Linked DNA regions of Homo sapiens: region 1 is linked to region 2. Evidence: fine-mapped expression QTL. A gene starts in region 2. The other region holds a variant in brackets. All regions are shown on one strand. Distances are between the middles of the regions. Region 1 holds the start of CARMN (cardiac mesoderm enhancer-associated non-coding RNA). Region 2 holds the start of IL17B (interleukin 17B).

The links. PIP is the estimated chance that this variant, and not a neighbour inherited with it, causes the effect.
Region 1: its variant is fine-mapped to the expression of IL17B in fibroblasts (GTEx, PIP above 0.99).

What each region holds. Positions count from the first base shown.
Region 1 is chr5:149,399,217-149,410,041 of GRCh38, reverse strand. It overlaps CARMN (cardiac mesoderm enhancer-associated non-coding RNA), which reads right to left and starts at 3,197. Exons shown (of 5, transcript NR_105060.1): 1 at 2,964-3,197. It also overlaps a transcript of IL17B not described here. RefSeq lists enhancers at 1,708-2,708, 4,559-5,149, 10,106-10,275. The variant G/T (reference allele first, on the strand shown) is at 5,915.
Region 2 is chr5:149,375,611-149,386,374 of GRCh38, reverse strand. IL17B (interleukin 17B) reads left to right here and starts at 7,083. Exons shown (of 3, transcript NM_014443.3): 1 at 7,083-7,170; 2 at 9,350-9,639. The coding sequence starts at 7,150. It overlaps LOC101927046 (a long non-coding RNA gene), which reads right to left and starts at 4,139. Exons shown (of 2, transcript XR_245875.4): 1 at 4,023-4,139; 2 at 2,016-2,184. RefSeq lists enhancers at 712-1,212, 3,098-3,809, 5,236-5,948, 6,301-6,835.

The DNA of each region.
Region 1 (10,825 bases), 24 kb before region 2:
GATGTGGCACACATCTGTAATCCCAGCTACTTGGGAGGCTGAGGTGGAAGGATCACTTGAGCCTGGGAAGCAGAGGTTGCAGTCAATTGAGAAGAGTCACTGCACTCCAGCCTGGTTGACAGAGGGAGACCTCATTTCAAAAAAAAAAAAAAAAATGGATAGGTGTCAGGTGTCAGGTGTCATTTTCCCCCAGAACTGGCCAGGCTGGGAAGGGGCTGATTTTGCCCAAAGGGCTGTGGTGTGGCTGTGAGGGACCAATGACAAACTTTCTGTTGCGGGGCAGCAACAGGGTTGAAGGGAGAGCAGTGGCCTCAGAGCTAGAAGGCTTGGGCTCAGGCTCCGGCAGGGCCTCACTCCTGGCCTCCGTCTCCTCTGTGAGGTGGGATTCTTCATCACTGCCCTCAGAGGTGTCGGGGTGGGCAGCCCAAGAGTGTGCGTTCTGCAGATGCATAGACTAGGTTCAAATCCCCTTCACCACTTTTTAATTGCGTGACATTGGGTAATCTGCAGTGGTTTCCTTCTCTAGAAAGTGAGGGTGATGGAATGATGCTGATTCCTGCCTCACAGGAATCCTGGGAGGATTAAATGATAATGCAAGCTGTTCAGCACAGTGTCTGACTCCCAGAAGTCTCCCATACATATTCTGCCCCCTTCCATGAGGTCTGTTGGAGGGTCTCCAGGAAGTTTTGAGGTAGCTAAGAGGCAGGGCAGGAGGTGGGAGACTCCTGGGGGAGTTAGCAGCCCCAGGGGCAGCTGGCACACACAACTTAACAACTCATGAGCTGTGTGACCTCAGGCAAGCCACCTAAACTCTCTTTGCCTCAGGTACCTCATCTGTGGAGTGGGGATAATAATTGCCCCTTCCTCACTGGCTCTTGTGAGGATTAAATGAATTAGTTCATGTGAAGATCTGAGGTAGTGCCTGGACCTCATAAGAACTCCACAAATAGTGTCATCTATTTCTCCTGATTTGCACCACCTTATGGAATCCCTGGCTGGGCAGAGAGGCAGGTTCTGTTCCACCTCTGCCATCAGCTCGCTAAATAACCTAAAGCAGTGCTTTCTCTCTGTGGATTCCGTTGCCTCGGCAGTTTGTGAGAGTCCTAGGCCGCCCTACAGCCTGGCATTTCGCAAACTTCCACATGCATGGGAATTCATGGGGTGCTTGTAATGCAGATTCCTAGGCCTCACTTGGGGTCCCCCGTCAGTGGGTGAGTGCACAGTGGTTCAGATACATTGCCCACACAATGCCCTAGAAAGGCAGGAAAGGAGATCCCCCCCAGTCCTTCAGGCATCTCAAGCTGATCACTTTCCTGTGTCCCACAGCCTCTGACTTTTGATTCCTCCTGCCTCTTTCCAGAGCCTGTTCCAGAGCTCTTCAGCAACTCTGGGCATTCCCTGGCCGGGTTTCATTCCCACTTCTCCCTCAACATAGCTCAGGGTATCTTGCCCGCAGGAGGTGTGGGCTCTGACTGCGATGTAACATCAGCCCCATTCATCCTGCTCTATGTGCCTACATCCCTCACTCCTCATGACAACCATGCAAGCTCAGAATTGTACCCATTTTACAGAGGAGGAAGCTGAGGCTCAAACAGCAAGCAACTTGCCCAGGGTCACTTGTCCAGTAAGTAAACAAGCCAGAATTGGACCCAGGCAGTTGAATTCAGAGCCTCCTTCTGAACCATGATGGCCTTGGGTCTTGTGTGACAAGAAGCGGGAAGGTGGAGGGTACAAGACAGAGGCCGGTGCTAGAGGACTGTTCTGTTCTGGGCTCCGGATGTGGCCAGAGTGTTTTCAGAGGAGCCCGACTCCATGCTGTCTGTACATCTTCAAGTTCCAATCCTAAGCCCCTGCCTCTACCCAGCCCTGCCTCCCATCACAAGCCTCCTGCATTCCTCTAAGTCCCCTGGCCCCACTGCTTCATCCCGCGAAGCCCTCTGCCATCTTTTCCATCCCTTACCTACTTCCATGTCCCACATTCCTGTGTGGTTGAATCCAGAGATCAGTCCTTTCCCCACCAGAGGCTGGTTGCAGCCAAGTTCATCTGGAGGGCTCGGGGCACCCCTCTGGCCAAGCCTTCAGTCACAGAACCTTCAGCTACTCTCCCTCACTCAGGCTCAACCTCCAAAAGCTCCCACAGGACTTCATCTGCTTGGACTCCAAGCTTGTGGTCAAAGTTCAGACTCGGCTCAGGGACCTCCTGGGGGAACTTCCCAACACTGGCTGTCCCTCAGGCACAAACAACTCAGAAGCCACATCTGCAGAGGGACCATTTTGTCCAATGGCCTTGCTATACAGATGGGAAAACTATGGCCCAGAGAAGGGAGGGGGCCAGCCCAAGACCACAGAGCCGGGCACTGAGAGCAGAGCTGGGGCCGGAGCTTAAGTGCCCCCGTCTCCTCTCACCAGCATCCCTTCCCATTGCTCCATGTGCAGTCAGCACCCAGCCTTCCCAGGATCTCTGCCTGCCTGCCAGAGCCTGAGCTTACATTGCCTCTTCCCCAGCTTTGTTTCTCGAAACCATTATTTGAAAACCATTTTCCTTGCCAGGAGCCCCAGGCTCTTGGAATTACAAAATCAAAGCCCCACACAATGAGGAAGAAGCACTGCCTATGTAGAAGCCAGGGAGACTGCCTGAGACTCGGGTGCCGAGGTGAAGCTTGGGCTGATAGGATGTTAACTCTGTGCACTCCCTCTGCACCTTCTTCCCCCAATTGACTACAACAACAAGGAATCCTAGAAGCCAACAGGACCATAGAACTAGAGCCGATCAGCTGGATGGATGCTTAGAGATCATTGACTCCAGCCCCTGTACAGATGGGGAAACTGAGACCCAGAGAATCTGTGTCCAGAAAGGGACAGAGCCAGTTAGCAAGACAGCAAGACCCCCAGATGCAGCATCCCCCTAGGGAAATTCCCAGAGGCCCCCACCCACGGATCCCAGGTCTGCCGTTGGTGCTTACCTTTCCTGGGGTCTGGTCCAGGTGTGGCTCCTTGGGGCCTGGAGACGGGAGCCAGCCTGTTTGGGGAGTGGTTGGGGGTGTCACTGCTTCTCAACTAATTAGACCCAGCCTCTGGTGCCCCTCGCTGCCACAGGGGCATTTTTAAGCAGCTGGCACTGAGCCCCCCTCCCCTTAGTCCCTTGCCTGCGGCTCCCTGGCCACAGAGGCCACTCTGCCTTTTACCTTATATGAGCTGAAGAGGCAAGCCCCGTATTGGGGCGAGGCGGGTGCTGAGCCCTCCCAGGGCCCCCCATTGGCCCAGGCACCCCCCACGTGACTACCTTGCCTTGACCTGCCCCCGGTGCTGAATGTTGCTTTTACCCCCTAAGGAAGGAGTGGTTGACAATTTTCATATTTCTTCTAAATTTGGAGATTTCAGACAATGCTGGGAGCCTTGGCTCCAGCCACCAGAGGCCCATGTGGAAGTCATTAAGCCTGAGAAGGGGGGCAGGGGAGAGAGGGAGGCAGGGAGAGGAGGAGGAGGAGGAGGAGGAGGAGGAGGAGGAGGAGGAGGAAGGGGGTGGGGAACAGAGTTCTGAGGGTTGCCAGTTGTCAGCCTGGGAACAAGAGCAAACTCCCTGGGAGAAAGCTGTGTGAGAATTTCCTTCCTCCCCCAGCCCCTGTGTCCCAGGACTGCAGTGGGAGTTCTGAGACTTTCTGGGAACCTCCAGTAGGGGAGACACCAGTCCTGGCTCCTGGAATCTGGGTGATGGGAATTGGGGGAACAGGAGAACATGGGGAAGGAGAGCCCAGACCGTGGGAAGCTACTCCCATCATCATGCAAACGAGGCCTGGGCCTGACAGGGAAGATCCTGACCCAGCCACCTGGCAGGGTCACCACAGGGCAGGGGTTTGAATGTGGAATGTCCTTCAGGGGGCTCTCTTTTCCCTGCCACCGCAGTCCTGAGAAATGCCCATCTCTTGCCGGAGTCCCTCTTTCTCCTTTTGCTTGGCCACCTTGGCCTCCTACAGATTCTTTAGTGTTTTTCATGCCTCAGGGCTTTTGCACTTGCATTGCTCGCTGCCAAAAATGCCTTCTTCCCAGAGCTCATGCTGCTCCTTCCCCTGCTCCTGTCTCCCACTCAGAAGTCTCCTCTGGAAGAGCCATTCCCTGGCCCCCTCAGTATTCTGTCACACCCTCTGCTTGCTTCCCGCTTCGGACTCGCCACGCATGTGCCTATCTTACATGTCCACGGTTCTAGTTTCTTGCTGGCTAGCTCTTTCATGAGAGTGTGACTTCCCCTGGCAGGCTCTGTGTCCCCAGGCTTCCTAGAGTGTCTGTGAAGAAAGGTCAGAAAACACAAATCAAGGGATCACGTGAACCAGGCCTCGGCTGCCAGCCTAGGAGTGTCGTGCTGAGGCCCATGGAGGTCTTCTCCCAGGGGCCAGCGGGGCCTGCTCCCAGGGCTGCCACCGGGTCCTGCCTTCCACTGCGCAGAGCTTCCCTTCTGCAGCCAGGCCTGCTGGACCCCAGCGGTCTCTGTTCACGGCCTCATTCACAGTTCCTCAGACCCCCAGCCTGGATGGGCCTGCCAATCCCTCTCTCCTCCTTCCAGGCCAGAGGCTGTGGTCTGCCTGTCACCGACCCTGGGACCCCCTCCAGCAGCACACGGGGCCTTGTGACATCCTGAGTGGGGCCAGTTGAGGGCCCGAGGGGGTGGGGTGCTGAATCAGACACTGTCCCTGACCTTGAGAGCCTCCCAGTCCAACAGGAGGATTAAAAATGCCATGTCCTTACCCCTCCACCCTCCCTCATTCCTTCTGAGGAAAGAATTCTGTTGGTGTTGAAAGGCCGGTGGGCTTCTTCCTGCCTTGGCCACTTCCTAGCTGTGAGGTCTGCCGCTCCCAGCCTCCCTTTCCCCCGGTGCCTCCCTTTCCCCTTGGGTAAAATGGCGAGAATCACACCTGCCTTCAGCATTGCCATGAGGGCTGGGCGAGGTGGCCCGTGCAGTCCTGGAGGAAGGTGTGAGCAGGACTCGAGTGAGACTGGGCTCAGCCCTGCCCCTCTGCTCCCAATGGTGGGGCTGGGGAAAGCCCTCTGGGAACTAACTTCTGTGAAGATCACTGTCTCCTCTGTAGCACAGAGTCAATGGTTGTGAAGGTTTAGCCCCGAGCCTGCTTCAGAGTGAGTGCTTGATCGATGTAAGCTATGACTCAGAGTTGCGGTGCGAGAGCTCTACACGGAGGTTTCGCCACTAATGTCACCCCCTTCTTTTCCAAACCAAGAAGATGAATTCCGTTCATGTGCATGCCCTGGGGTGCAGGTCAGAGATGGTGGGTTAGGGAAGGCTTGTGACACCACTCCCCAACCCTGCACAGTGGCCCAGTCGAATACTCCAAAGCACCACTGACAGACTCTAGAGGGAAGATAAAGCCGGCCTAACAGAAACATCGTGTTTATGTAAAGTCCACTCTGGAGGCTGTGAAACGTAAGTTATGCTTCTGTGAGTTCTGCTACTGTATAAACAGTAGAGAGTTCGTCATCAAGAACAAACAGAAAAACTAGCAGTGCAAGCTGTGGGGAGACCCCCACCATTGAAATGCCCAAAAACTCTGCACCTGGCCGAGTGCTTTAGTCGGCTACGCCCATGAGTCAATGGGCTTGGTCAGCAGAAAGCCCATTGCGAGAGGCAAGACAAGGAACTGAAGCGACCTGGAGACAGGTCCTTGAATATCAGGAGAGAGGTGTTCTGCCACCAGACTAGCTCAAAAGGCGAAGTATATGGCAGCCATTTGTGACTCAGTGTCCATAAATCTGTCTCAAATATTTGGAAGCTGTTTCTATTTCCTGCCCATACTGTCTCTTGGGAGTTATGAACACTTTACATTATGAACAACTCATTCTGTGAAGTGGCTTTTCTTTCCAGACTGGGAGAGGCAGCCTTGAAATCCCTCCATTCCTAGAGAAAACA[G/T]GTCGACAGACTGCGGCTTGGTATGTGTGAGTAAGGCTTCTTGGGAGGTGAAGGGAGGTTCCTGTTAGGAGCTGAGTATGAGAGTGAGTTTGCATCGTTGAGTCCTGTGTTTTCAGATGGTGTATTTAGTCAGGGGGAGGGGGACCCTGTCCAGGAGAATAGAGGACTCATGGGCCCTGGGAGAGCCGGCTCTACTTCTCTACAGAGTGACCAAGGAAGACCTTGAATTGGTACAGTTGGAACCTTTAGGAAGATGGAATCTAGATCCACATGGGAAATACTTTTTAAGCCAGTGGAACTAACCAAGGATGAAGTGGGCTAACAAGCTGTCTTGGTAAAGTGGTGAGTTCCCTGTTATTAAGGGAATGCAAGCAGAGGCTGGACAACTTGGCAAGTCCCTTCCCAGCCCTGAGATCGTATGGGCTTCACTTCACCCTTTCTGTTCTCACCTCCCAACCTGTCCCTAATCTCCAACCCTGAATTCACACTAATTCTACCCAGGAGGCTCAGCTCAGAGGTGGCCAGTTGGGAAACAATTTTATATTGAAAAGGCCCATAACCCCTGAGTTAAAAATCAAGCCCCATATGTTCTCTTCAATGAACATAAAACTTTTTTTTTGTTGGTAGAGTTGGTATGTGGGAGGTGGGAATATGGACAATTAGTGATGAAATGCCTATAATTATTTGCCTTGCAATCCAACCATTTTCTCAAAAGCATCATACCATGGAAAGCTGCCCACATGGCTAGGCGTGGTGGCTCACACCTGTAATCCCAGCACTTTGGGAGGCTGAGGCAGGAGGATCTCTTGAGCCCAGGAGTTTGAGACCATCCTGGGCAACACGGTGAAACCCCGTCTCTATAAAAAATACAAAAAATTAGCTGGGCATGGTGGACTGTGCCTGTAATCCCAGCTCCTTGGGAGGCTGAAGTGGGAGGATCACTTGAGCCTGGGAGGCAGAGGCTACAGTAAGCCGAGATTGCATCACTGCATTCCAGTCTGGGCTATAGAATGAGACCTTGTCTCAAAACAAAACAAAACAAAACAAAACAAAACAAAACAGAACAAAACAAACAAAAAACTGTCTACAACTTGCTATTGAGTTTTTTTTTTTTTTTTTTTTTTTGAGATGGAGTCTCACTGTGTAACCCAGGCTGGAGTGCAATGGTGCGATCCCGGCTCACTGCAACCTCTGCCTCCCGGGTTCAAGCGATTCTCCCACCTCAGCCTCCCAAGTAGCTGGGACTACAGGTATGTGCCACCACGCCTGGCTAATTTTTTGTATTTTTAATAGAGATGGGGTTTCACCGTGTTAGCCAGGATGGTCTTGATCTCCTGACCTTGTGATCCGCCCGCCTCGGCCTCTCAAAGTGCTGAGATTACAGGCATGAGCCACCGTGCCCGGCACGAGTTTTTGTTCTTTTTTTTTTTTTTTTTTTAAAAGCATGGTATTAAAGAAGATAAATTGTATAATCCCTTTTAAGTCAAATGATGTGTACGTATGTGTGTGTCAGGAGAGGGTAAGTGTGAGAGTAGCAAGGCGCCCTGCTGGAGGTTGAATTTGTGTGTTGTCTCTTCCCTAATCTACTTCACAGATAGGCCAGGACAGGAAGTCACTGTGGAGTGCCCAAAGGTAGTATCTTTGGGAATGGCAGGGGAGGGTGAATTAACTCATTGTCCTGAGAGAAGGATGTAACACACCTTTTATGTTGATCGCCAGGGAAGAATGGTTATGGGAAGGGGAACAATGGTGTAGCCCAGTCCTCCCAAATCTTTGTGGGAAAGGCTTGCATTGAAGGGCCCTGGGTGGTTGGCTTGGAGCCCTTCTCTGGTCTAGGGGGAGCACCGTCTTCCACTACCGTGGCTGCTTTGGGAGTAGTGAACCTGACTGACAACTCGAATATTACTCACCAAGATTAGCTCCTGCTCGGTTATTCATGTCCTTCCACCATGGTCAGTGCACTGATACAAGACCACATGGGTCTGGACACCTCCTTCCAAGACGCCTGTACGGGAACCCTCTGTGTGTAAGAGGGAGGCAGTGAAAACCCTGTAGAGAGCAGCTGGGCTGCATGCTGGACTTCCTGCTATCACCAGCACATGGGGCTTGAACACTTGAAGTTTCAAGGAAAACCGGGCCACACTAATTGCACCCTGAACAGTGCAGGGTAACACATGTGACCGTGCATGTAAAATGCACCGTTCGATGTGTGAAAGAACGTTCAACAAAATAAGAAGAGAAGTTATCTCTGGGTGGAGGGAATTTGGGGTGATTTGGGCTTACTTCACTATAGTTTTCTGTATTTGATTTTTGTCTTGATTTTCATTGAGCATTTCTTGTTTTTAGGCAATTATCACATTTATTTATTTATTTGAGAGGGTTTCTTCCTCTGTCACCCAGGCTGGAGTGCAGTGGTGCAATCTTGGCTCACTGTAACTTCCGCCTCCTGGGTTCAAGTGATTCTCCTCCCTCAGCCTCCCTCAGCCCCCTAAGTAGCTGGAATTACAGGCATATGCTACCACACCTGGCTAATTTTGTACTGTTAGTAGAGATGTGCTGCCACACCCGGCTAGTTTTGTACTGTTAGTAGAGATGGGGTTTCACCATGTTGGCCAGGCTGGTCTTGAACTCCTGACCTCAGGTGATCCACCCGCCTCAGCCTCCCAAAGTGCTGGGATTACAGGCATAAGCCACCATGCCCAGTCCAATTATCACTTTTAAAAAGGCATACCACGAGACCTTGACAGCTTACTTTGTTTTAGAATTTATGTATGGCAACTGTGAAAAATTGAAAATTTAATTCAGTGTCCATTGTCTAATCAAGTCTTACCAGTCAGGGTCCATGTGCAGGAAAGCAATTATTCCTGCTCATTTGAGCAGAAAGGGATTTACTACAGGGAATCGGAAGCTTATGCAATTAGGAAAATTAGAGAAGTGGGCCCTAGAAAGGACCCTTGGGAATGACTTTGAAAACCACAAAATTGTCCTGTCAAGGCAGATGCTACCTCTACTGCCATCAGAAGTGATGTGATGGTTAATTTTATGTATCAATTTGATTGGGCTATGGGATGCCCAGATAGCTGGTAAAGCATTGCTCCTGGATGTGTCTGTTGGTGTGTTTCTGGAAGAGATTGGCTTTTCAATGCAGATCGCTTTTTGCCAATGCAGAGGGGCAGCATCTAGTCCATCGAGAGCCTGACTAGAACAAAAGGGTGGAGGAGGGGTGAATTCTCTCTTCTTGAGCTGGAACATGTGTCTTCTTCTGGCTTCAGACATCAGAGCTCCTGGTTCTTGCTCCTTGGGACTCTGGGACTTACACCAGTGGCACCCCTGGCTCCAGCCCTTTGAACCTGGACTAAGTCATACCAGCAGCTTTCCTGGTCCTCCAGCTTGCAGGTGGCAAAACGTGGGACTTGCTGGCCTTTATAATCATGTAAGCCAATTTCCGAGATAACTCTCCTCTTCTGTGTCTCTATATATCCCGTTGGCTCTGTTTAGCTGGATAACTCTGACTACAGTGGACTCTGGAGGGGGAGCTCCACTGTCATGTGAAGAATACACTGCTGCAGCTGTGTCCAGGGTTAGGAGGTCACTCCTGCCTCTGCCACACCCACAAAGCCAGCGACCGGTTGTGTCAGTCAGGCAGGGCTGCTGTAACCAAACACTCCATCCAGACAGGGTGGCTTAAATGATGGGAATTTATCTCACAGCTCTGGGGGCTAGAAGTCCGAGATAAGTGTCAGCAGAACTGGCTCCTTCTAAGGCTGTGAGAGAGAATCTGTTCCAGGCCTCCTAGATTCTAGCGGCTTGCTGGCAATCTTTGGCCTTTCTTGGCTTGTAGATGTATCGCCCTGATATCTGCTTTCATCTTCTCATGGTGTTTTCCCTGTGTGTGCTGTTTCCAAAGGTACTCTTTTTATAAGTCATATTGGATTAGGGGCCCACCCTAATCCAGTCTGACCTCATATTAACTAATTACATCTGTGGCAACCCTGTTTCCAAATAAGGTCAAATTCTGAGGTGTTGAGGACTGGGAATTAAACATAGAAATTTGGGGAGGGGGGACATAGTTCAACCCTAAACATGTGTAAGGGACCACTGATGTGGACAAACCCATATAGGGGTGCTTGCCAGTAGCTACTGTGAAGAAGCAGGAAGGTAACCTCCCTCCAGAACCACTGGAAGTCTGGGAAATGTAGTTTTTAGCTTACAAGGCTCTGCAGTAATGAAGGTTGGAATGGATGCAGCACCAATCCACCAAACCCCTGACCTAAATCCAACATCCTCTGTCTGCCACCCAACCCTGGTCATTTTGCAGCTGGCAAAAATTCCTGCCACTGAGCACATGCACCTGGGGTATTAGAAACAACACTGTCCTCAGAAACCAGGAGGTGAGGACTGCGGGAGTCCCGGCCCTATTATTAACTCACAGGGTGACAGCCACAGCTAATCAAACCCACCTGACACAAAATCCCACCATCCACAATTCACTCAACAAACACAGCAGTGTTCACAGTCATTAACACACTCAGGAACCTTGTGCCACATGCTGGGAACTAACTTCGTAAATTTGTTCCACAAGGCTGTCCCACCCACCCAAATTTGTTTCTTTATTATTTCTTACAGAGATTAAAAAAAAAGATAATTGTCTTCTCCCAACCATGATCAACTTCCCGCCACTACCATTTTTCTTGTTTATGTCCAGAGTATTGTGTGCAATTGTGTGCATGCGCAGTCCAAACCCAGCATTCTTCCTGAATGATAGGTAAAGGATTTAGAAGGGAACTGAACCAGGAGGCCAAGCTTTTGGCCCAGTTGTGCCACTAACTTGCTGTGTGGCTGAGATCCCTGATGCCCCAGCTGTGAACAGGGTTGCTACTCTCTGCCCACCTGACAGCACCCGGGCAGGGC
Region 2 (10,764 bases):
GTTGCTGCCTGTGCTCTAAGTGTTGTGTTGTGCACAGCTCTCAGGACGTTCCTCTGCTAATCCTGCCCTAATCGCAAGCCAGCCCCAAGCTCCCTGAGCCAGGTGCTGAGAGCCGCATCTGTGAGTAAGACATGCTTGCTGTCTGTGAACAGCTCCTACCTGATGGCTCTTAAAACAATAACAAAACACACACATACAAGACACCACCCACAAATTTGCACTCACACAATACACCAAAACAACCACAATAAAAACAGCACTCTCTGACCCAACAACAGAGGCCAATATGCAAGGCAGACTTTGATAAGTACCATCGGTTTGTAGCTTAATGTTCGGGGTGCAGGCCTTTGAACCCAACCTGCAAAAGAAGTCCTTTCTGCCCCACCCATGAGCCCCTGCCACCCATGAGCCCCCAGGACTCCTCTCCCTACGCAGCTGCTGGGAGATGTTGACGTTTTCTTCTCACGTCCCCACAGATGTGGCCTCTTCCTCTGCCAGGAGCGGCTCTGGGGGGCTGAAGAGGACTTTTTTTGTTCTGTACCCGTTTCCTGCTTCTGCTGAGGGCAGGGTTGGGGCCTTCCACCCAAAACAGACCCAGACCCACCCAGCCAGAGGAGACGCTGACAGCTTTGGGGGAAAAGTCAGAATTCCAGATCTTGTGAATCCAGACGTCCTGTAAACTCTGAGCAGAGGATAAACATCCCCCGGGACTGAGGGGAGGACACTCCAGTGGGCAGGGGGCCTGGCGCCTCTGTCTGCCCTGGAGACAGGCTGTTTATTCCACGTCCCCCACAGGCTCTCTCGCACTCCTTCCTGTCCCAGGTCTGGGTGAGTTACAGCAGGCCTGACAGCCCCACATGGGGGCCTGAGGCCTTGGACATCAGATCTGGACCTCTCAAGGCTAGAAGGGAACTTTAAAAGCTCAAAAACTGGCCGCGTACGGTGGCTCACGCCTGTAATGCCAGCACTTTGGGAGGCTGAGGCGGATCATGAGGTCAGGATTTTTTTTTGTTTTTTCTGAGATGGAGTTTCATTCTTGTTGCCCAGGCTAGAGTGCAATGGCACGATCTTGGCTCACTGCAACCTCTGCCTCCCAGGTTCAAGCGATTCTCCTGCCTCAGCCTCCTGAGTAGCTGGGATTACAGGCATGCGCCACCACGTCCGGCTAATTTTGTATTTTTAGTAGAGACGGAGTTTCTCCATGTTGGTCAGGCTGGTGTCGAACTCTAGGTCAGGAATTTAAGACCAGCCTGTCCAACATGGTGAAACCCTGTTTCTAATAAAAATACAAAAATTAGCTGGGCATGGTGGCGCATGCCTGTAATCCTAGCTACTTGGGAGGTTAAGGCAGGAGAATTGCTTAACAGGGACCTGGGAGGCGGAGGCTGCAGTGAGCTGAGATCATGCCACTGCACTCCAGCCTGGGCTACAGAGCGAGACTCCATCTCAAAAAAAAAAAAAAAAAGCTCAACAACCCCTCCACCCCACAACACACACCTGGGCCACTCCTTCCTCTTCTAGAATCTCCTGGCTAGTGTTCTGCTCTCTGCTGATAGAGAGATCACTCTTTTCCAGGGCAGTCCATTTTATTTCTGGGACTCTCTGGCAGTTAGAAAGTGCTAGAATTGAGCTGACTAGAATTGCTCTGTGCCACCTGATTGGGAAGAACTAAGGACAATGCATACAACAAAATAATAGCAGGGCCATTCCCTGTGCCAGGCACTTGCCACATATAATCTTGTTAACCCCCCACCTCTCTTTCAAGGACATAGGCTCAGGGAGGTTAGGTCACTTGCCCAAGGTGACTTAGCTGCTACATAGCAGGGATGAGGTTCAGAGCACTCTGGTTCATCGTCTGTGCTTTAAATATTAATCTATACTGGCTCTTCATAATCAAAAAGCAAAAATAGCACATACACCCACAAACACACTATACATCAAAATCAGGCACATATAAAACCAAACCAAATTACAAAATATCAGCCCGAACTTGCCAAATATTAAGTACCATTATGTGCCAGGCAAACAATAATTTTAATGATTAATGCATTTTAACAACCCCGTGAGGAAACGGAGGCCCACTGAAGTGAGGGGGGTGGACATGACCATATAATAAGGGGCAGGGCAAATGTCCAACCACCATTGCCTGAAGTCTGCCGTGCTTTCCCCACAGGAGGAGGGCTTCTGCAAAATAAAAAAGAAAGCTTTTATAATTATAATTATTTTCAACAACCAGAGTTTTAAAAAATGGACTGTGCATCCTCAGAGAGAAATGATATTCCTAGAGAGATGATACCCAGCAAAGGCACTTAGAAAGCGTTCCCGCTTTGCTAAGGGCTGGATGAGGTATCCCCTACCTCTGATGGCCTGTGGGTGGTGAGTGCTAACAAGAGACTTGGTACAGTGTAGAGTCAATTTGCAACCCAGAAACACAAACTTGGTGTTTTCAAGTCTGGATGCTCTGCAGAAGAGAGGCCTAGGCGACCCAGTCTCCAGTGAACAAGACCACCTCTTGGAGTCCTACCCCAACTCACATTTCTTTGACTTCCCCCTGTGGGGAGGAGACGCTGGCACCTGGCCTGGGCAGAGGGTCATGTCGACGTGGCAGCCCCTCTGCACACCCCAGAGGCCGCCCATTCACCCAGGCCTTTCCCTTTTTTGAGAACTGGGAGCTTGCTGGCTGGGGCTGTTCCCACCAACAATGTTCCCGTCCAGGGATCTTAAAATAGCACCTCTTGGCTGGGGCTCTGGAGTGAGCAGCGAGGCAAGCATTTGTGCAAATATGGGCCTGGGAGAAGGACTCCTACCAGGGAGGGAGGGGAGGGCAGCATGGCAGGAGAGCCAGGACCTCCCTAGGGGGCTGCACCCTCCTGGTCGCAGCCAGCAAAGGCGCCGACTAGCCTCTTCCCGCCTTCCCTGACCTTACTGGGTCCACTTGGGCAAGTTCTTAGACCAAATCCTTCAGGTCCCCCTGGCCTTGCCAACGCTCTAGGGTGGGCCCGCTGGAAATAGGCACCTTTGCATTCTTCTGCTGGTTCTAGCCTTGTCCCCACTTCGTAATGCCCTTCCTACCCAGGAACGTACTAGAAGCATTCTTGAAGGCCCAACTCAAAACTCATTTTAACTGTAGGAATGACAGTTGCAGCTACCATTAATGGGGTACTTACTTTTGCCAGGGACTGTGCTAAGCGCTTTAACGTGCATTATCTCATTTGATCCTCACAACAATCCACTGAGAGCCAAGTTATTATTATCTTCACTTTGCAGAAGAAACTAAGGCTCAGAGAAGTCAATTAACATTCCCAAGATGACACAGCAGTGAAGGGGCAGGGGCAGGGCTGAAACTCAGGCCAGCCCATCTGTGGAGGCTGACCTCTGCCCTCCCGGCTGCACTTCCTTCTCCAGGTCCCTCTGCTCTGGCCTCCTCCTCTGTCCCAGCATGGCCTCCCTGTATTATAGTCAGTTTGATTCAATGTATCAATATTTTAGTTCACATACCAGGAATGCTGTTGGGTGCCCCACGAGCACCCTGGGAGCTCTCGGATCCCCTTGATGACTTGGGCTTGGGCGTGGGTTTAGTGAGCACCCGAACCTACCGGGTTCAGGTTGTTTGAGGCCATGGGTCAAGGCTGAGGCCATCACAGACCGTGCTCAATGACCAGCTGACCAACTGGACATTCCCCCTCCACCCCTGGCTGCCGCCCCTCTCCTTACTCCACCGCAGGGAGCAGTGTGTGCAGGAGTCAGACAAACTTGCTGTGAATCTTCTGTGACTTTGGGCAAGTGGTTAACCACGCTGAGCCTCAGTTTCCCCATCTGTAATTCAGAATAAAACTAGGACCTCACCCAGTGTTATTTGGAGGATTTCATGAAGCATTTAGCTTATGGCCTGGCAGTCAGTAAGTGGATATTAAGTAGCAGCTATTATTGTTACTGTTATTTTCTGTGAATTAAGGTGTCCAGGTGCCAAATGCCTGAGGCCTGGCACACAGCAGGTGCTCAAAGTAAAGGCAATCACTCACTCAGCAGACAGAAGCCCTCACCCGACCCCTGGAATCGGTGACCCCGACACCTGGAATCGGTGACCCCGACACCGCCTGTGTCATTCCTGGCCGGCTCTGATGTCTCCTAGGCTCTGGTCCTCATCAACAATAGGGTCACTCTGGAAGCCAGGCACAGGCGCAGGGCCCCACCCACTCGCCCCATCCCCTCATTCTCAGTCCCGGGCCGCTCTTGGAGAAAGAGGTGGCAGAGTGCAAGTTCCCTCAGGGTCAGTACATTTTTCAGGGTTGGCTGGCTTTCTAGTGGCGCCATCTGCTGGTGAGTGCAGCACTGCTCCTGGCGGGGCCTGCTGCAGAGGGCTCTGAGCGAGACCGCGGCCACCCACTGCCCCTTCCCCTGTAGCTCATCTGCCCAGTCCTTCATTCACGCATGCTGACCACCCTCTGCGTGTTAAGACCCAAGGACCCCAGCCTCACTCGTGGGGTGGGAGCCCTGGAAGCCCAGTTCCTGCACCTCCCTCTCAGGCCTGGCACTGAGTCCTGGGGCTGGGTCCCACAGGCCTGCCTGGGTTCACACTCAGGACATCAAAAAGGACAGATGACCCTCCAGGGGTTTCTAGAAACCAAGACTGGAAGAAGGGGTCTCCCTCCTGGTCTGAGATGGTCCAGGAATGGGAAACCCAATGACTGTTGCTGGGCCCATGCCTGACTCCTCACAGCACCTGCCAGGGGACCCCAAAGCTCCCCTCCCCACTGTGAAGGATCTGGGGCCCCCACAAGGACTGGCCTGCCTCTTTGGTCTCCACCAGACCAGCAAGGAGGCCCAGCCTGGCCCAGAGCTGTTTGTATAAAGTCTGAGGGAAGAACAATGAATGACTTAGGAGACGGAGTTCTGCTCCCAGCTCTGGCACAAACGCACTGTGTGAGCTGGGGTAGGACCCTCCCTTATCCAAGTCTCCTTGTAGTAAAATGGGTGGGAGGAGGGGGCCAGATGATGGGTGAGGACCCGTGTAGCTCCCAAACTGGCCTCGTGCTAAGATGCAGATTTTTGCGCTGCTACTTCAGCATCTCTGGGGCTGGGACCCTGAAATCTAAAGTAGCAAGCACTGCAGCTGGAGCAGGGGAAGCTGACAAGTCAGTCCTGGCTTGGGGAGGCAGAAGTGAGGGGTGCGTATTTCCAGCAGGTAAGGAGAATGTGTTGGTTTCAGGGGTCCCCCATACCCCAGCATCCATCTTTCAGTTTGCCACTGTTCTGTGGATATGGGAGGGTCACCCCAGTTGCATGTCTGTGGGACCCCACTGCTAGCAGCAGCAGAGTGTGTGCAGAGAGCCAGCACAGAACACAGCCAGGCCGCCCGGCCAGTGGGGCTGGGGCTGGGACAGCCTGCGGTGGGGGCGGGGCCCTTGTTGCCTGAGGAGGTATTTTCAGAGTACCCCTCCCTCTGGAGTTTCCAACGGTAGAATAGAGCCCTGTCTAGTATTTGACCAAATATGGTGGCATCTCTCATGCTCGAGCCCCAGCCAGCATCTCAGTTATGCTGTGGAAGCCTGCCCCGGACAGATTAATCTTGTGACATTCAGGAGCGCCTCTCACCCTGCCTTCTTCCCCTCGGACGATTCCTGTAAATGGCCAAGACCGGCCCTCAGCACGACAGGGCCGTCCTCAGTATCTGTTCACAATGCCCCTCCTCTGTCCTCCTCACATTCCCTCCCGCCATTCCTGCCTCCCTGGGTGGATGTGCCCGCTTACATTGGGCTGGGCTGTTCACCTGAGGTGAGAGACATTGGCCAGAGGAGGTGGTCAGTTGAGCATGTGATTCCAGGACCTTTGGACCCTGAGGTCATCCGACCTCACAAACTTGTGGCCTGAATCTTGGAGGCCTAGACCTCTCTCAGCAGCCAGGAGGGTGGGCCTGAGGGGGTTGAAGGGAGAGTCAGTAGAGAAATGAGAACCATGCTACCTCTAATGCTAATTAGAACAACTAATGTTTATAATAATTATACAATTATTTTATAATAATCTCTATAATAAATAGCTAAGTGTTTATTGAGCACTTACTATGTGCCAGGTACTGTTGCCAGCTATTTAACATAGGTGATTTCCTTTATTCCTTATAGCAGTTTTAAGAGGGTGCCATGATTCTTCCCATTCTAGAGATGTGGGAACTGAGGCTCAGAAAGATTTCAGGAGGGAATGGGCCAGGCCACCGTCTACTTCTGGATACACCCACCATTTTATGGAGGAGGGAACTGAGGCTGACAGTAAAGCTCACATGCAGCCACACAGTCTCTGAGAGCGGAGACCACCCCAGGAGGGAGAGTGCTGTGTCAGGAAGGCCAGGACAATCAGCCGTAAGTCCTCATGGATCTGAAACTTGGCCAGAGTGAGGGCGTACAGCTTCAGAAATATGTTCACAGCAGGCTGAAATTGTGCGGAAAGTCTCCCAAGAAAAACAACATGGGGTGGTGGATAGAGCCCTGGATGGGGACAGGGTGAGAATAGCAGCTCTGACACCTCTAACTCACTGTTAATAGTGACAAGTCCCTTTCTGGCTCCAGCCTCAGTTTCCTTGACTGTGATCTAGAGGGGTGGGGCTTTGGTCTCCTAGGGCTGCTGAACTCACCTGAGGCCGGCAGAGGCTGGAGTGCCTGAGGCTGTTTCCCTGGGAGATGGGGCCTGTGTCCCACTCCTGGCCAGCACAATTTGAGAACATTTGCTCTCCTGACCAACCAACGGCCCATCCCTCCTCCACCCTCAACCCCTTGCCATCCCCTAAGCAAACGAAGCTGATTGTCTTAGCTGGCCCTGTGGGTGCTGGCTGGGCGGCCGGCCGCAGGCCACAGGCGGAGGTGCCACCGGCCAGAGCCCCACCAGACACACAGGGCATTGTCCCTCGGTCAACAGCCCCTGGGCACCTCAGCTCGGCTCCTGGCCTGCCCCCACGCCCCTCACCGCCTGCCACTGCGCTAGGCTCAGCCAGCTGGGGGCCCAAGGCTCCCAGCTGATGACGAGCCCACCCACTCACTCCCCCAGCAGCCCCCAGTTGAGCTATAATTGCTTCGCTCCATCCTGTTGCTGCCATTCTCTCGGCGGCATCTGGGGTTCCAGGCGGGCAGCAGCTGCAGGCTGACCTTGCAGCTTGGCGGAATGGACTGGCCTCACAACCTGGTACGTGGCGCTTCCCTGCCGCACCCCCACCCCTTTTTAAGAGCCCAAATATGTCAGTTTTTCTTTCCTATTTATTAATGGCTGCCTCTGTTTGGTTTAGAATCTGCAGAGGCAACTTCTCTGTCTTCTCCCCCAGGACTAGAAAGAAACAGAGACTGGTCACTGTAGCCATGGCCAGCAGTGCAGGCTCCTGAACGGGGCTCAGCCGGGGCACACTGAAGCCTTTTCAGACCAGAGGCGTCTGGGGAGATCCCGGCAAACTCAGTTATCGGGGTTTTTCCAAAGAGACCCGGCTTCTGAGGTCCTGGCTGTGTGACCTTGGGCAAGTCCTTCTGTTTCTCAGTGTCCCATCTGGAGAGTGAGGGAGGGGGACTTTGATTCTATTCTACGTTTCTCCGAGTGGAGAGCCAGAGTTTAAGAATGCCCTGTGAGAAACTCTAAAGAGAGAGCCTATTGTTAGGGAGACATTTTTTCTGCACTAGAATCTAGGACCAAAAAGGAAGAATTTAGCACTTGAATCTCTGTTGCAGATTTTGTGCCAGCAAATACCTCTGCCAAGAGGGGCTCTGCTGAAACTTGTTTCCTAGGGTCAAGACTTGCTGGGTAGCCTGGATAAAGCAGGCATGGGCCATGGGGCTGTGGGGCTGTGAGGTGAGGCATACAGGGAACATATGGAGCCTATCTCAATTTAAGAGGAGTCAGAGGTGCCTCCATCCTGGGAGCTCTGCCTCACACGCAGGCACTGTCCCTTCTCTCTGGATTCCTGGGGAGTCTGGCTTCTGCCGGGCCTGAGTCCTCTTCCTTGTGAGCCAAAGGCTTTCCTGATACTCTGGTGCTGGGAGGGAGAAGTGGATGGCAATGGGTGAGGGTGTGTGTGTGTGAGGAGGGCTTGGGGGATGGCTGGAAGAGGGAAGGCTCAGGGGAGAAGGGCAGTGCAGGCGGACAGGACATCCTTAGCCCATAACTTGCCCATCTCCCCAGCTTCATCTCATCCCCTCTTCCTCCCACCCACTCTTAATCAACATTCCATTCGATTCAGCAAAGTTCTTTTTTCTTTTTTTTGAGAGGAGTCTCGCTCTGTCGCCCAGGCTGGAGTGCAGTGGTGTGATCTCGGCTCACTGCAAGCTCCGCCTCCCGGGTTCAGGCCATTCTCCTGCCTCAGCCTCCCAAGTAGCTGGGACTACAGGCACCCGCCACCACACCCGGCTAATTTTTTTGTATTTTTAGTAGAGACGGGGTTTCACAGTGTTAGCCAGGATGGTCTCGATCTCCTGACTTTGTGATCTGCCCGCCTCGGCCTCCCAAAGTGCTGGCATTACAGGTGTGAGCCACCACGCCCGGCCACAGCAAAGTTCTTAACCAGTTCAAACCTCCTCTCTCATCTTCCCCCAACCCACCCCTCCCACACCTGCAAGACTTCAACTCCCTCAGCCCATGCCTGCCATGCCTCACCTGACATGTCCCTTCCCCAGAAAAGTTTCCCAGGCCATTGTCCCAGCACAGCTAAGCAGGAGGCCCCACTCTTCTCCAGCCACACCCTGAATGGGCCCATCCTGGACTTGTCGCTAGGGAGACTTGGGTGTTTGTCTTCTTGTTCACTGTCTTCCTTCTTAGACATAAATGACAGAAGGGCAGCGATGGGGACAGCCATTCATTTACTCAGTGAGTGTTCACTGAATGCATCACGCAGACACGGGAGATATGACAGTGTGTGGAAACTGACACGTGCCCCCACGGAGTCCATGCTGAGTTGGGGGCAGACACATAAAAGAATTGTATACACAAACTTTAAGATTGAAGTCATGCAAGAGGTGTGTGGGTTATGAGAGCCCAAGAAAGTCCAGAGGCATCCCTAAGAAAGCGATGCTAAAGCTGACACGAGGGGTGGGAAGGTGTCCAGGAGGTGAAGAGGCAGAATGCTGCAGGCAGAGGCTGTGCAAAGTCCCTGTGGCAGGAAGGAGCATGCTGAGTGTAAGACTGAGAGAAGACCAGAGGCTGGAACACACAAGAGAGAGGAAACAGGGGGTAATCTGAGGAGGGAGAGCTGGGGGATGGTAGGCAGAGTCAGACCTGAGCCTGGGAGACCCCTAAGAGCAATGGGAAAGGACCATGGACCCCAAGTCTTGGCCCAGATAGAGACTTGGCTCTCCCACCTTTGACCTGTGGCTTTCCTCCCCAGCTGTTTCTTCTTACCATTTCCATCTTCCTGGGGCTGGGCCAGCCCAGGAGCCCCAAAAGCAAGAGGAAGGGGCAAGGGCGGCCTGGGCCCCTGGCCCCTGGCCCTCACCAGGTGCCACTGGACCTGGTGTCACGGATGAAACCGTATGCCCGCATGGAGGAGTATGAGAGGAACATCGAGGAGATGGTGGCCCAGCTGAGGAACAGCTCAGAGCTGGCCCAGAGAAAGTGTGAGGTCAACTTGCAGCTGTGGATGTCCAACAAGAGGAGCCTGTCTCCCTGGGGCTACAGGTAGGCTGGGCAGTGGTGGCAAGCTGTCTTTGGGGGGTGGGGACCTTTCCTGTGCCCCAGTCATTGTAATGGTTAAGATCTCAGATTCAGAGGTCTGGGTGCTTGGGTTCGAACCCTAGCTCTGCCTCTTACTTGCCTGTGAGGCTTTGGGCAAATGGATTAGCCTTTCTGGGCCTCAGTTTCCTCAATGTAAATGGAGGCAACAGTAGTACCTCAGAGTCTTGTTAAGTGAGATATCCATGCAGAGCACTGCCCTCATTGTTCTTCAAGTCTCCATGGAAGTGCCTGCAAGGCTTTCCCCAGATGTCACTTCCTCTGCTCTGTGGGCCTCGGACGCCCTTCTCAGGTGTGGCGCTTCCATGCGGTGTTCCAGTCTGTCTCTTATGCTGGACCTGGGCCTTCCCAGTGCCGGCATCAGAATCACCTAGGGATTCCCATGCCCAATCCAAACCTCCAGCGGTGAGGCCCAGGAAGTGCTATTTCTTATAGCTCCACGTGATCAGGGCGCACAGCAGGCTGCGATTTGGGAATCAAGACCCATTGCCCTGGATAACGATGGCAGCAGCGTCCTCTCTTGGTTGTAGCTCCGCTTCCTTGCTCAGTGCCTGACCCATAGTAAGGACCAAAGATGAAGGAAAGGGCTGACCCTGAGGTCCTCACTCACAAACCCAGGCCAGAGATTTTTCAGCCACATGACATATACCCTGAGACTCTAGAATAGCACTGTTCACCAGAACTTTCTGTGATGATGTAAAGTCCAGTATGGTAGCCACTAGCCTCATGCAGCTACTGAGCACTTGACATGTGGCTACTGTGACTGAGGGATTAACTTTGATTAATTTTTTTATTTTTTGTTTGAGACAGGGTCTCACTCTGTTACCCAGGCTGGAGTACAGTGGCATGGTCTCGGCTCACTGCAGCCTCTGCCTCCTGGGCTCAAGCAATCTTTCCACCTCAGCCTCCCAGTAGCTGGGACCACAGGCATACCTGGCTGATTTTTTTTTTATTTTTTGTAGAGACAGGATCTCACTATGTTGCCCAGGCTGGTCTCACACTCCTAAGCTCAAGCAATCCACCTGCCTTGGCCTCGCAAAGTGCTGAGATTACAGGCGTAAGCCACCATGC